Linked DNA regions of Homo sapiens. The protein of the gene in region 2 purifies or fractionates together with the protein of the main gene of each other region. This does not show direct contact. Each region holds a gene or a part of one and is shown on either strand. Other genes may lie near its edges.

What was found.
Region 1: the proteins of PSG3 (region 2) and MGRN1 purify together in Homo sapiens (co-immunoprecipitation; 2 studies listed by BioGRID and IntAct, with this or other methods). This does not show direct contact.

Annotation. Positions count from the first base shown.
Region 1 is NC_000016.10:4,648,822-4,655,848, reverse strand, and holds part of MGRN1 (E3 ubiquitin-protein ligase MGRN1), read right to left. Parts: intron 5,485-7,027; coding exon 5,366-5,484; intron 3,887-5,365; coding exon 3,798-3,886; intron 3,172-3,797; coding exon 3,025-3,171; intron 1-3,024. UniProt on the Homo sapiens protein: E3 ubiquitin-protein ligase. Mediates monoubiquitination at multiple sites of TSG101 in the presence of UBE2D1, but not of UBE2G1, nor UBE2H. Plays a role in the regulation of endosome-to-lysosome trafficking.
Region 2 is NC_000019.10:42,730,474-42,737,500, forward strand, and holds part of PSG3 (pregnancy-specific beta-1-glycoprotein 3 precursor), read right to left. Parts: intron 2,590-7,027; coding exon 2,311-2,589; intron 1-2,310.

The sequences.
Region 1 (7,027 bases), on a different chromosome or scaffold from region 2:
TCTGAGCCTCAGTTTCCTTGTCAGGAGGCAGGGAGGGTGGCTTGCCCTGCAGCTCAAATGGATGGAGCACTGGCAGGCTGGATGGTGTCCGGGTGCCTGGGCACAGCCTCCAGGTCCTGGAGCCTCCAGGTCCTTTTCTGTGATCCCTGCTGGGAGGGGAAGCTGGCCTTGCACCGCGTCCTGAGAGAGGGGGACAGTGGCACTGGAGCTGTTCCTGCTCTGTGATGCCTGCTGGGAGGGGAAGCAGGCCTCGTACCAGGTCCTGAGAGAGGGGGACAGTGGCACTGGAGCTGTTCCTGCTCTGTGATCCCCGCTGGGAGGGGAAGCAGGCCTCGTACCAGGTCCTGACAGAGGGGGACAGTGGCACTGGAGCTGTTCCTGCTCTGTGATTCCTGCTGGGAGGGGAAGCTGGCCTTGTGCCAGGTCCTGAGAGGGGGGGACTGTGGCATTTCTCTCATCACTAGCCCGCAGGGGTCTAGGAGAGGGTGACACCAGCCAGGGCTGGCAGGGCACCCTCTCTGCTCTCTCTAGCCTTTCTGGTAGCAGCGGGACCCTCTCTTCAAGTGCACTTGAGATGGTCACCCAGCCCCTGACAGCTGGAGCACTGGGGGGCAGCGGATAGACAACTTACACTGGCCTGTGTCCTCAGCCCACACCCTCTCTGTGGCAGCCCCTGGACACCTCGCCACAACCCAGCTCCTCCACCATGTCGGCCAGGCCCGAGGAGGGCACCAGGCCCCGTGGGTGTCAAACACTCAACCCCAAGCAGTGGGGTGCAAGGAGGGGACAGAGGGGCCTGCCCTGGTCACTCCAAATGCTCCTACGCCCAAGAATTCGACGCCTGTCATAGCACACAGGCATGCATTACTAGTGTCATTAAAGAAATATAATCAAGTGCCGGGGCAAGGTAGAGCCTCAAAGAACAAAGTCTAGAAAAAGGAACCTGTTCCTCCCCAAAGTGCTGCTCCACAGGAGGAGCCCTGGCTGCCGGGGAGCCCAAGGCCAGAGCCCAAGGGCGGCCTCACCTGGTGGCAGGTCCCTAAGAACCTCCCCACATAAGTCGTCTCCACCAGCCCCTCAACTCGAGCACTCAGGCTCCTTTCAAGAGCACCTGTCACGCGAGGGGCTGTGCACAGGACACATGGTCCCCTCCTCACACCACCCACCCGAACTTCCAGCTGAGGACACAGAGGCACAAGCAGTCATGTGCCCCCAAGCCACTCAGCGGGGACAGCATTCAAAGCCTAGGCTCTCAACCACACCCTATCCCCAGATGCAAAGCTGACCACTGAGCGGTGTGCTCCAGTGCAGGAAGGCAGGGGGCACGCTCTTGCCTGTCTCTAAAGCCACTTGGGGCACATGTGCCCTTGTAGCCTGGAGGCAGTCCTGCCAGCTCCTGCTGAAGTTGCAGTTTTCAAACTTTCAGGGCCAGAAGGACCCTTATCTCAAATAAAACCTCTGAAAGTACAAATATCTAATTATGACACAATAAAAAATAAATATTTGGTCCCAGCCCCAGTTCCTGACACAGAGTCCTCTAAAACCCTTGTCATTTCCTCAGCAACAGGGGTGCTAGGAGCCTCTTTTGTTCTAATATTTGTTCCTTGACCTTTGCTCCCAACACAGAACTCCAAACCCTTGGAATTTCCCGGGTGGTAGGAGTGTCTTATGTGCCAGTGAGGTGACTCTTGGCTCCTGGAGGTGGCTGGCTGCCAGAAAGACCAAGCCATGATTAGAGACTTGGAAGTGTCGTCTAAGAGCTCCCGAGGAAAAACAAACAAAAACCTGGGCCAGGTGGGCCGGGCATGGGGGCTCACGGCTGTAATCTCAGCACTTTGGGAGGCCGAGGCAGGTGGATCACCTGAGGTCGAGCGATTGAGACCAGCCTGACCAACATGATGAAACCCCGTCTCTACTAAAAATACAAAATTAGCCAGGCATGGTAGCATATGCCTGTAATCCCAGCTACTCGGGAGGCTGAGGCAGGAGAAGCACTTGAACCTAGGAGGCGGAGGTTGCAGTGAGCCAAGATCACACCATTGCACTCCAGCCTGGGCAACAAGAGCGAAACTCTGTCTCAAAAACAAACAAAAACCACTTTGGGAGGCTGAGATGGACAGATCATGAGGTCAAGAGATTGAGACCATCCTGGCCAACATGGCGAAACCCCCATCTCTACTAAAAATACAAAAATTAGCCAAGCGTGGTGGCACGTGCCTGTAGTCCCAGCTACTCAGGAGGCTGAGGCAGGAGAATTGCTTCAACTCGGGAGGCGGAGGTTGCAGTGAGCCAAGATTGTGCCACTGCACGCCAGCCTGGGCAGCAGAGTGAGGCTTCGTCTCAAAACAAAACAAAACAAAAACAAAACAAAAACCTGGAACTGAATTTCAGCCCAGCCCCATCCTCCAGGGAGGGGACAGGGGCTGGAGATGGAGTTAATCATCAATCCTGCCTACGTGATGAAGCCTCCAGAAAAGGCCCTGAAATGGGGTTTTCAGGAGAGCTTCTGGTTTGCTGAATACGAGGAAGGTGGTGCGCCCCACCCCTTCCCCCACACCTCACCCTGTGAACCTCTTCATCTGAATCCTTTACAATAAACCAACAAACACCAGCCAAGTGTTTCCCTGGGTTCTGTGAGCCACACTAGCAACTCATCAAGCCTGAGGAGGGGACTGTGGGAGCCTGATTTATGGCTGGTTGCTGAGAAGTTCAGGTGACAGCGGGGGCTTATGAGTGGCATCTGAAGTGGGGCAGTCTTGTGGGACTGGGCCCTCAAAGTGCAGGGGTTGCATGACCTCCAGGCAGCGTTGGAACTGAAACCAGTCAAAGGACCCCAGCTGGTTCCCGCAGAAAAGTGGGGAGTCCCTGGGGTGGGAGAAACCCCTCACATCGTGGTAAAGTCCTGGGAGTATGGTCAAAGAGCACGGTTTGGTTTTCTCCCTCTGGTTAGTAAGGTGGACAGAAGCCTCCCCCAGGAGTCTGGGGCCCCCAGCCAGGCCGGTGCCAGCCGCCCGCGGGACTCACACTGCCCTGCCGTTCAGGAACTCCTCCGATGCCTGGCAGTAGATGGTGATGGCCACGCGGGCATCGGCGTCGAAGGTGAACTCCAGGCTGTAGAGCACCCGGGGCTTGTCGCCGTCCTCGGTGGGGCTGTCGGCATCGTCTTTGTACCTACCCCAGGCGGTGGAGAGAAAGGCAGCGGGTCAGCGGCCCCATCTGCGGAGGCTGCCTCCTCCCCTGCCAGGCTGAGGGGCCGTGGAGGTGGCTATGTGGACACAGCCCGCTTCTCCAGTAGACATAGGGGCTGTTTCCTATTTGTACATGAAAGCCCAGTGGTCCAGGGCTTGCCTCTCCTTCTTCCTGCCCACAGAAGACGGGGTACGTGCTTTTGGTTCAGAGACAGCCCCAGATGCCTCAAGTCTAGTCGGTTTAAGCAGTTTCTGAACCTGCTGAAATCTGGTGCTGGGTCATTCCTGTCTGTGGGGGGGCCGTCCTGTGCATGGCAGGAAGTCTGCAGCACCCCTGGCACCCACCTGAGATGCCAAGCACCCCACCTGGCTGCCTCCAGACACTGCCCAGGGTCCCTGTGCGGCACAGCTGAGAAGCCCTGGCTAAACGGCTCTTGTTCCACATGCCCTTTCCCTCGCTCAGCCCAGGACAGCCTCTCATTCCACACGGGAGGGCGCAGAAACTGGGGCCCCTCCCGCCTGCCCTTTTCCTCAAGCATCAAGCCAGAACCTCCACCACAGGCTGCGCCCCACAGAGCCACAGGGTCCCCAGGGGCAGGGTGAAGTTACCTCACCAGCCGCAGGGAGTCTTTGCGGATGTTCACCAGGCTCCGCAGCGTCTTCACGGGCTCGTGGGGGGCAGGAGTGACGTAGGGAAACTAGGAGAAAAACCACAGGGCCCCAGGTGACTCCCTCAGGAGCAGCCAACAACAGAAAACGGGTCAGGGTGCAGCAGCCACAGCCCCAGAGGGTATCCCTGGGATCTAGTCCCATGGGAGGGGCTATACTGGGTGCACTGTTCTCATTTACAGGTAGAAGCTGCAGGCCACGCAGCCAGCACACGCAACGGCCAGGACCAAATCACCCTGAGCAAATCCAGCCAGGCAGCCTCAACGCCAGACCCCTGCACGCTGGGGCTGCCCATCCCCAACCTGCTCTCCCAGGCTTCCCATATCCATCACTGCCCCGAGCACCCTCAGCCCCTTCCTCAGTCCCCACCCTTTCCATCCCCAAAGCTTCCTACGAGCACAGCTCAGCAACCCGCCCCAGGGCCCCCAAAGTTTACTGGCTCTTCCGGCCTCCTGTCCCCTGAGGCCTGCACCCTCTCACCTCTTCCTCTGTTCCCAGGCCCCCTGCCTTCTAGCTTCTTCTGGAGGGGCCCCCTTCCCACCTATCATGGCTTGGTTCAGCCATGGCCTCTCCAGTAGAGCCTCCCTTTCTGCCCCTTCTCTCTTCTACCCATTTGTCCCGTATTAATTGTCTACGCCCCCACCAGGTAGCAGAGGCAGGGTCTGCTTTCACCCCAAGCCCTGGAAGAGCACTAGGCACGCAGCAGGTGCCACATGTGTGCTGAACAGACAGCTCACAGTACTCGAGTACTATGACAGTACTCGAATGTGCCCTTCTCTGGCAACGAGGGGAAGATGTTAGCCAGCTGTCTGCATCTCTCCTTTGGACCATGTCTCTTGCCCACTGTTCTAGGGAAAGTAAATATTCTTTTTTTTTTTTTTCTTTGAGACAGTCTCCCTTTGTTGCCCAGTCTGGAGTGTAGTGGTGCAATCTCGGCTCACTGCCACCTCCGCCTCTCAGATTCAAGTGATTCTCCTGCCTCAGCCTCCCGAGTAGTTGGGATTACAGGCACGTGCCACCACACCCGGCTAATTTTTCTTTTTTTTCAGTAGAGACGGGGTTTCACCATTTTGGCCAGGCTTGTCTCAAACTCCTGACCTCAGGTGATCTGCCCGCCTCAGCCTCCCCAAGTGCTGGGATTACAGGCGTGAGCCACAATGCCCAGTCTGTAAATACTATTTTTGCCTTGTAAAGAAAGTCATCCAAGAAGGCTGGAATCAAATCCACCATGTTCCGCAGCCGTTGCAGCCCAGACGCACCCATTCAGTATGGCTGCTCTGTTTCTCAGTGACCTGCCCCTGGCCATCTGGCCTCTAGGGGGCAGCACCAGGACACAACCCATTCCAGGGCACGTGCCCACACCCAAGCTCAACTGGAATCCTGCCAGGAGCTCTGCCCCCTTTAGGGGTGATTTGGTGCCTGCTTGCCCTCATGGCTGGGATGCGGACTGCTGGGGACAGGGGCCTCCCACCCCCACAGCCCCATGAGACAGCCCTGTCCAGACCCACCTGGACCGGGCGGCTGCCCAGGAAGTTCAGATCCATGTTCTCTCCAAAGAGGTAACCTTCAGGGTGGGGGGTGTCGAATTTCTCTCCTCCCATGAAAAAGTGCGAAGCAAAGTAGTTTCCTGTTTAAAAAAGGAAACACGATTATAGATTTTTTTTTTTTTTTTTTGAGACAGAGTCTCAGGCTAGAGTGCAGTGGCGCTCCACCCAGGCTGGAGTGCAGTGGCGCTATCTCAGCTCACTGCAAGCTCCGCCCACCGGGTTCAAGCGATTCTTCTGCCTCAGCCTCCCGAGTAGCTGGGATTACCGGCACCCACCACCACGCCCAGCTGATTTTTGTATTCTTAGTGGAGACGGGGTTTCACCATATTGGCCAGGATGGTCTCCAATGCCCGGCCTCAGGTAATCCGCCCGCCTCAGCCTCCCAAGGTTCTGGGATTACAGGTATGAGCCACGGCGCCCAGCCTGGAAACAGTTATCGACTCTGAGGCTGAACACAGCCTGGTGGGAACATCTGACGGCCAAGAAGCTCGGCCCTGAGAAAGGCTCCACCTGAGGGGAGCTGATGCAGACAGGCCAGCGGGTGCCCCTCATACCCTCTGCCTCGGCCACCTGGCCTCGGGCCTTCCAAGGTGGCCTCCTGGCCTCTCCACACTGCCAGCCTCAACACCCTTCCCTGGACGGCTCCTCGCTGCTCCCAGCCCATCAGCCAGCATCCAGCTCCAACACCACTTTCTTCTGTAGTGGCCTGAGCTGTGTTTCCGATGAAGTTCGGGTCCTACTCCACACCCAGCCCCTACCTGTGCATGTGACCTTATTTGGATCTAGGGTCTTTGCAGATGTAATCAAGTTAAGAGGAGGTCATACTGGATTGAGGGGCTCTAAATCCAGTGACTGGTTCTTAACAGAAGAAAGGAGAGGGAGGTTTGGACGCAGACTTGAAGGGAAGGCCAAGGGAAGAGATGGAGGCAAGAGATTGCAGTGATGCGGCCACAAGCCCAGGGATGACAATGAGTGCCTGGGGCCCCAGGAGTGGGGAGAGGTAAGGAAGAGTCCTCCCCCAGCGCCTTCGGGGACCGTGGCCCTGCTGGCACCTCGGTTTCTGACGTGTGCCTCTGTGATGGTGAGAGAATACATTTCTGCTGTTTCAAGCCACGGTTAGAGGTCATTTGTCACAGCCACCCCAAGAAATCCTTACACATTTCGTGACCCCAGGCTAAGTCACCTTACCCCCAAATCTGAGCCCTGTGTACTTTCCATGGCAGCACCCAGCCGGGTTTAGAAGTCTCTGTGGATCTGGGCTAGTTCGTTCAGTCTGACTCCCGCGTGAGGGCGGGAGGCTGTAGGTGGCGCCCATCAGGACCCTGGCACACTTAGGCATGAGATCTGCGCTTCTCCTATGAGGAGGGGATGGACAGCTGGGCATCCTCAGAGACCTGCGCTCACAGCCCTGCCAAGGAACACTGAGAGCATGGCCTCTCCCCTGGATTCCTGACCTGACGCCCAGATCCAGCCCCATTTCTCCTGGCACACAGCCCCGGAGAGGAGGACCCGGGTGACCACGGGAAGAGTCCCCGAGAGGAGGAGCCGGGTGACCACGGGAAGAGTCCCCGAGAGGAGGAGCCGGGTGACCACGGGAAGAGCCCCGGGAGGAGGACCCGGGTG
Region 2 (7,027 bases):
TTTCCAAGGACATTCTAGAGATGAGTAATAATGGGACTTCCCATGGCCCTGAAACCCTGAAGATACTGAGCAGCCTGGCCTGGGACTGGATGTTTCAGCAGAAATAACACAGGGGAGACCAGAATCAAGCCTGGAGGTCAGTTCAGTCATCAGGCAGTGGAGGCTCAAGGTGGGGCAGTTTTTTGCAGGTGTTTCATGATGACTTACTTGAACCAGTGACCTCTAAAGATAGAGCAGAGTGCAAGGAATGATCTAGAAAGAGTGAAGGTGACAGGCAAGAGCTGGTGGCTTTGGAGCAGAAGCATGTTCCCTGTCTTGGGTTCTTTAAGTTTCCTCTCCTTCTGCAGAGGGCAGGTGAGGACCATGTGGATCTTTCCAGAAATACATGTGGACATTTGCAAATGCAGCACTGACTGGTGGAAAGGGTGGGAATGAACTGCTGGAAATCTGGTCCTCATGGACCATATGTGTTTGATGGATATGAGACAAATTTGGAGAGAAGTTTTGCAAATATTTTCTTTCATTGGACATTCTACTCAATGATTCCATGGGTTCGACTACTCTAGGGACCTCATGTAAGTGGATTCCAGAGTGAATATGAGAAGAGACTGCTGGTTGCCAGGAGCTGGGAGTGGGGAGAATCAGAAGTTGTTCATGGGTGGGCAGTTTCAGTTATTCAAGGTGGGGAGGTTCTAGAGATCTGCTGTAGAGCTTGATGCCTATAGTTCACACAGATTGAGTATTTCTTATGCATAAGACTTAGGACAAAAAGTGTTTTGGATTTCTGACATTTTTTGATTCTGAAATATTTGTCATATACTTACTGGTTTAGCATCCCAAATCTGAAAGACTCAAAATCTAAAATGCTTCAGTGAGCATTTCTTTTCAGCATCAGATTAGTAGGCAAAAGTGGGAGGTGATAAGCCAAAGATATTCTTGCCCTTTTTTTTTCTCTCACCACTTTTCTAGCTTGGTGATTAGTTTTCGGTGAATTCCATACTGGCCATGCTGCACTTGTATATTTTTGAAGGCCTTGGGATGTGAGAAAGGCTGATTGCTATTTTCTATGTCATCAGAACTTTCCACCTTTTCATGGTTGCCTCTTTTTCTCAGTGTATCTGTTGTGGCAGTCATTAATAAGAGCCTGTCAGGTGAGATTTAGGACAGTGTTTTCTAATTCTGCAAAAAATGTTACTGGGATTCTGTTAGGTGTTACATTGAATCCGCAACTCACTTTGGGAATATTATCTTTCTAACAATATTGATTCCTCCAATCCATGAAAATGAAATGTGTTTCCATATATTGATATCGTCTTTAACTTGTTTCAGCAATCTTTTGTAGTTTTCAGGGTATAATCATTTGACTTTTTGGTTAAACTTATTTCAAAATATTTTATTCCTTTTGATGTTAATGTGAACTGAAATTCTTTCCTTAATTTCCTTTCAGATTGTTCATTGTTAGTGTATAGTCTAAAGAATGATCTAGAAAGAGTGAAGGGGACAGGCAAAAGCTGGTGGTTTTGGAGCAGAAACATATTCCCTGTCCTGGGTTTTTGATTTTCCCTCTCCCTTTGCAGAGGGCAGGTGGCTCTTCCCTGATAGCTAGATAGACTTCACTGGAAAACATAGTGCCAATGCTCCAGGGATCCACTTACCAGGGACTATGATCCTCTTGATTATGAGATTTGTTCCAGCAGTGGCTGAGTTATGGATGAAACAGACATAGACCCCTCTATATGTTTTAGTGATTTGGGGGATAAAGAACACTTGTGCTGATTGCTGGAACTTCCCATCAATCAGCCAAGAATGCTCTGCCAGTGGGTGAGAGTCTGTGAGGCAGGAGAGCTTGGGGGCTTCCCCTGTATGGTAATAGGTGTATGAGGAGGAAATGGTGGGGGCATCCAGGCCATGTGGAGCAAAGAGAATAATGTCATAGGTGGTATTGTCAGAGGGAAGGGAAAATCCTGGTCTGTGGAAGGGCCACAGTGACCCTGTGAGCCAAGTTGCAACACTGAAGTCCCAGCCAAATCCCTGCTGTGTTCACTGATCTGGAGCCTGAGACAGTCACCTGTTTTGCCCATCACAAGCTGTGGACGCTGAGTCTCCCATGACAGGAGCAGCCTCTTTTCTCCTATTGTTGATCAAGCCTAGGCCTACTCTGGTTTGCCTGGGGCAGAAAGTCATGGCCAGGTTTGATGTCCAGGGGTAAAGGTCTCTGTACTTGGACCTGAGAGGGACTGAGAGGCCTGGCCTCTGGCCACGTGTATTTGGGATGGCAGACTGGCTCACAGAGGAACAGGAGATACTCACGGAGGAGATTCAGGGTGACTGGGTCACTGCGGCTGGCACTCACTGGGTTCCGTATTTCACATTCATAGGGTCCTGCAGTGTACTTTGTGACACCAAATAGAAAGAGGGTCCTTTTGTTTTTGGACAACTGCAAGCTGTGAGTCATAGGGAGGCTCTGACCATTCATCCACCACAGGTAGCTTGCGTCCGGAGTCTCAGGATCACAGGTTAAGCTCACAGCCTCCATGTCCTCCCTGGGGTATAAGTTGCTGCTGGAGATGGAGGGCTTGGGAGTCTCCACTGTGCAGAAAACAGAGAGAAGATTGCCCTGTGTGGCACCTTTGATTCCTCCAAAGGCATTTTTCAATCAGAGTTGGCATTTCCCACCTCTCAGCCCACCCAAGTCCTTAAAAGCCCATGGCAGGTGTGTGTGTTACAAGACAGATGCATGGCAATCTGAGGGCTCAGAGATTGTGAGGCTGCCTGCTTCGTGTGGGAGAAGCACAGACTTTCTTAACTGTGAATTGAGCAGCAGCATTGGGTCACGGAAAGACACAGGACCAGCAGTCACAGCCCCTGGTGCCTCTCTGAGTCCCTCCATCTCGAAGTGCCTGCCTGGCCCACCTTGTGGTCCTCACTTGGAGCATGCAGTGCTGGAATCTTCTTAGTTTCAGTCTTACTTTGCCGCCCGAGGTATGTTTTCTCTGCAGCTTCCCTTGCCAAGGACATCCTAGAGATGGGTGATGGAACTTCCAATTGTCTTTAAACCCTTTGGATACTGGAAAGCCTGACCTGGGACTGGGTACTTCAGCAGAAATAACACAGGGGAGAACAGAGTCAAGTCCGGAGTTCAGTTCAGTCATCAGGCAGTGGAGCCACAAGGTGGGGCAGTTTTCCCAGGTGTCTCATAGTGGCTGACTTGAGCCAGTGACCTCTAAAGATAGAGCAGAGTCCAAGGAATGACCTACAAAGAGTGAAGGGGACAGGCAAGAGCTGATAGCTTTGGACCAAGACCACGTTCCCTGTTCTGGGTCCATGATGCTCCCTTCCCCCTGTAGAGGGCAGGTGAGGACCATGTGGATCTTTTTGGAAATACATGTGGATGTTTGCAAATGCAGAACCGACTGGTGGAAAGGGCGAACATGAACAGATGATGGAAGTCTGGCCCTCATGGACCATATGTGTTTGGTGGATATTAGACCAATATTTGGGAAGAAGCCTTGCAGATACTTTCTCTCATTAGACATTCTACTCTCTGATTCTGAATTTGACTACTCTATGTACCTGATATCAGTGGATTCCAGAGTGAATCAGAGTGTAGAATAGTAGTTTCCAGGAGCTGGGATCAGGGGAATAGGGCGTTGTTCTGTGGGTGTGCGGTTTCAGTTATGCAGGATGAGGAGGTTCTAGAGATCTCCTGTACAGCTTCATGCCTATAGTTCATACAGATAAAGTGCTCCTTATTCAGAAAGCTTAAAACCAAGTGTTTTGGATTTCTAATTTTTTTTATTTTGGAATATTTACAGTACATGTACTGGTTTAGCATCCCAAATCTGAAAAATTTAAAATCCACAATGCGCCAGTGAGCACTTCTTTTTAGCATCACATCAGTGGTCAGAAGGGTTGAGTTTTGGAGCATTTCAGATTGTGGATTTCTGGATTTCCGATGCTCAATTTGTAATACTGTAATTTTCCCATAAAAATTTGTCAGGAGTTTAGACCTTATGTTCTGACTCTAGTAACAACAACAGCAAAAAATTTGGAGGAAACATTGAAATGTTTTCATAAGTGGAAATTTTTACTGATGATCCAAACATCTAAGATCAATTGCTGGTAGTAGTATTTCTCTTGAGACCAAAATAAGGTTTAGGTGTGCCGTGAATTCCAGCAGGATCACATTATGCTCAAAGAAAGATGCCAAAGGTGATTTGAAATTAGCAACTCCTTAAGTAGAGAGAGTCCCGTTAAAAGGACAGAACTGGTTAGTGTGTCAATTGCATAAAGGGAGGAAGGATGCCAAACTAAAAGAAGTGATGTGTGTTATGTTAGTAAATATAGAAAGAACCTGCTTCTAATTTCTGTGCAGAGTTAGGAAAAATGGGGAGGACCCCAAAACAGGTATGTGAAATGCTTTCTTCATTTTCTCTTAAGCTCAGGAAACACCACTAGTGTTTAAGTTTGTGTGAATTAGAAAGAGTCTAAGTGAGATGCCAATGGTTTGTGTGTCTCCCCACACGCAGAACTCCAACTTATGAAAACGGCATCATCATGAGGAAACAGTTGTATGTGGCACAGGCAGTAAAGCCATCAGATAGCACCCACCTGGCCACCTCCACCTGGTCCCCAAAACCACCAGTATTCCCATTACGTGTATCTTATAGCCTTTGTAGTTGTCCCACAGCTACAAAATTTAAAAATTGCTATTGTCAAATCAAAATATTAAATATGAAGTTGAAATGTTGTTCCACTTTTTTTCCCCACTCTTGTTGAACTTTCCTGTTTCAGTTTTGGAAGTTTCTATTGACATATCCTCAAGCTAGGGATTCTTTCCTCAGCTATGTTCAGTCTACCAGTAAGTATCAAAAGCATTCTTCATGTCTCTAAAAACATTTTTTTTTTTCTGAGACAGAGTCTCGCTCTGTCACCTAGGCTGGAGTGCAGTGGCATGATCTCATCTCACTGCAAGCTCCACCTCCTGGGTTCATGCCATTCTCCTGGCTTGGCCTCCCAAATAGCTGGGACTACAAGCGCCTGCCACCACGTCCAGCTAATTTTTTGTATTTTTAGTAGAGACGGGGTTTCACCATGTTAGCCAGGATGGTCTCCATCTCCTGACCTTGTGCCTGCCTCGGCCTCCCAAAGTCCTGGGATTATAGGCATGAGCCACTGTGCCCAGCCATCTCTGAGGGATTTTAATGAGTTGTTGACTTTTGAGTTTGTTCAGCTTTTTACTTAGTGTTAGAACCGAGGAACAAATTTCAAGCTTGTTATATGCCTGACAGGAAGCCAGAAGTCTCTAGGAAGTGACCGGAGAATGTGAGCTTTATAGCAGGTTGAGGATGGAGTCACAAGTGAAATGGGTGAAATGAGCCCATGGGGTTTGGGGACTGCAGGCCTGTCCAGCCTCTGACACTCTGGTGAGTCAGTGCTAAGATTACAACAGTGACAGCAAACTAGCATGGCTGAGTCCATCTGGTATCTAGTCTCAGGCTGGCTGTCCTCACTCATTCCTGGGCATAGGCCAGGCTAACCTTGGGAGGAATTTAGTTTATTGTTTAACTTTGAAGCAAGAATGATAATTGTTCCTCTGTAAAAGTAACACCCTTACTTTGCCCAGGGACTGCCTTTGTAAAACTAGTGAAAGACCATGAGATTAAGATTATAGGAGGGAACTGAATTCTGCTAAAATGTTGGCAGAGTTTTTATAATCCTTGACTGCTCAAATGTCGTTGGGCCAGAGTTTACAAAATTTGTAACTAATTGCTCCTATAGATAACATCACTATTGTAGAACGTGAGATTGGTCTTTTGAGATGTTTCTCATTCTTTTGCATTCTGGCAACCGGCTGACCTCATCCATACCTATGACTAATGGCTCAGCCCGTCATGTGGTCCCTACCTAGAGGTGGATTCAAGCACAAACAGATCATTTCCCTCCGCCCGCATGATTCCATCACCAATCAGCAGTACTCATTTTTTAGTCCTGTGCCCCTGAAACTATCCTTGAAAATCTCTAAGCCCTGATCCACTGGGGAGGCTGATTTGAGTAATAATAAACCTCCATCCTCCTGTTTGGCAGACTTGGAGTCATTAAAATCTTTCTTTACTACAAACCACCATTTCAATACATTTGTGTGTGTGTGTGTGTGTGTGTGTGTGTGTGTGTGTGTGTGTGTGTGCAGGAGGCCAGAAGAACTTGTCTGGCAATTATAAGAGTGGATGGAGAAACTGCCTATCCCTGTCCCATGGTCTTGTCCACAGGTCAGCCTCACAAAGGGAAAGAGCCCTGGATGGGAATACAGTGGAAACTCATTCTCTTAGTGACCTGGGGACATTGGCTCTAGAGGAAGCCTGGCAGGAGTGGCAACTCCAGGTGATTTCTGCACCTTTCCTATTTCCTGGGAGGTGGGCCAGGCCACAGTGTTAGCGGGAAGGGAACTGAACAGTCAGCCTAGTTAGAGGGAGTGTCTGGGGAAGACCTAGGGGTGGGGGAAGAAGCTGTGCAGGACAGGGCTTGCCAGTCAGAATGAAGTGGGAGGAAGATGAGGGACACAGAGAAGCAGAGAGAGGCAGAGACACCATGGCAGTGAGCAGTGAGGGCTACACTGACTTCAGAGACCCCAGGGACCAGGTGCCCCCAGTTCCACAGTCCAGGACCAAGGAGCCCTGAGAACCCTCCGGTGGCCAAAGAGCTTCAGAGTTACATGAGGTGGGGTTGCTTTAGGGTCAAGAGGTAGTGGGGGGATGAAACGTGGGTGTCAGCCTCTGAAGGACAAGGGACAGGTGTGGCTAGAACCTCCTAGGATTCTGCATGCAAATTCAGTCTCTAAAGAGGTTTTGGATCATTCATTTCTTCATTCCATTTCTTCATTTGTTATGTAAGAGCTCCTGAGTGTGTCTGTCTCGCTGGGCCTATGGTGGTGTAGGGTGTGAGTGGGGAAAGAAAACAAGGTCCTCTCCTTGATCCTCTTGTGACAGTGACATGGACACTTTGGGAAACACAGGATTTCAGGTTCAGT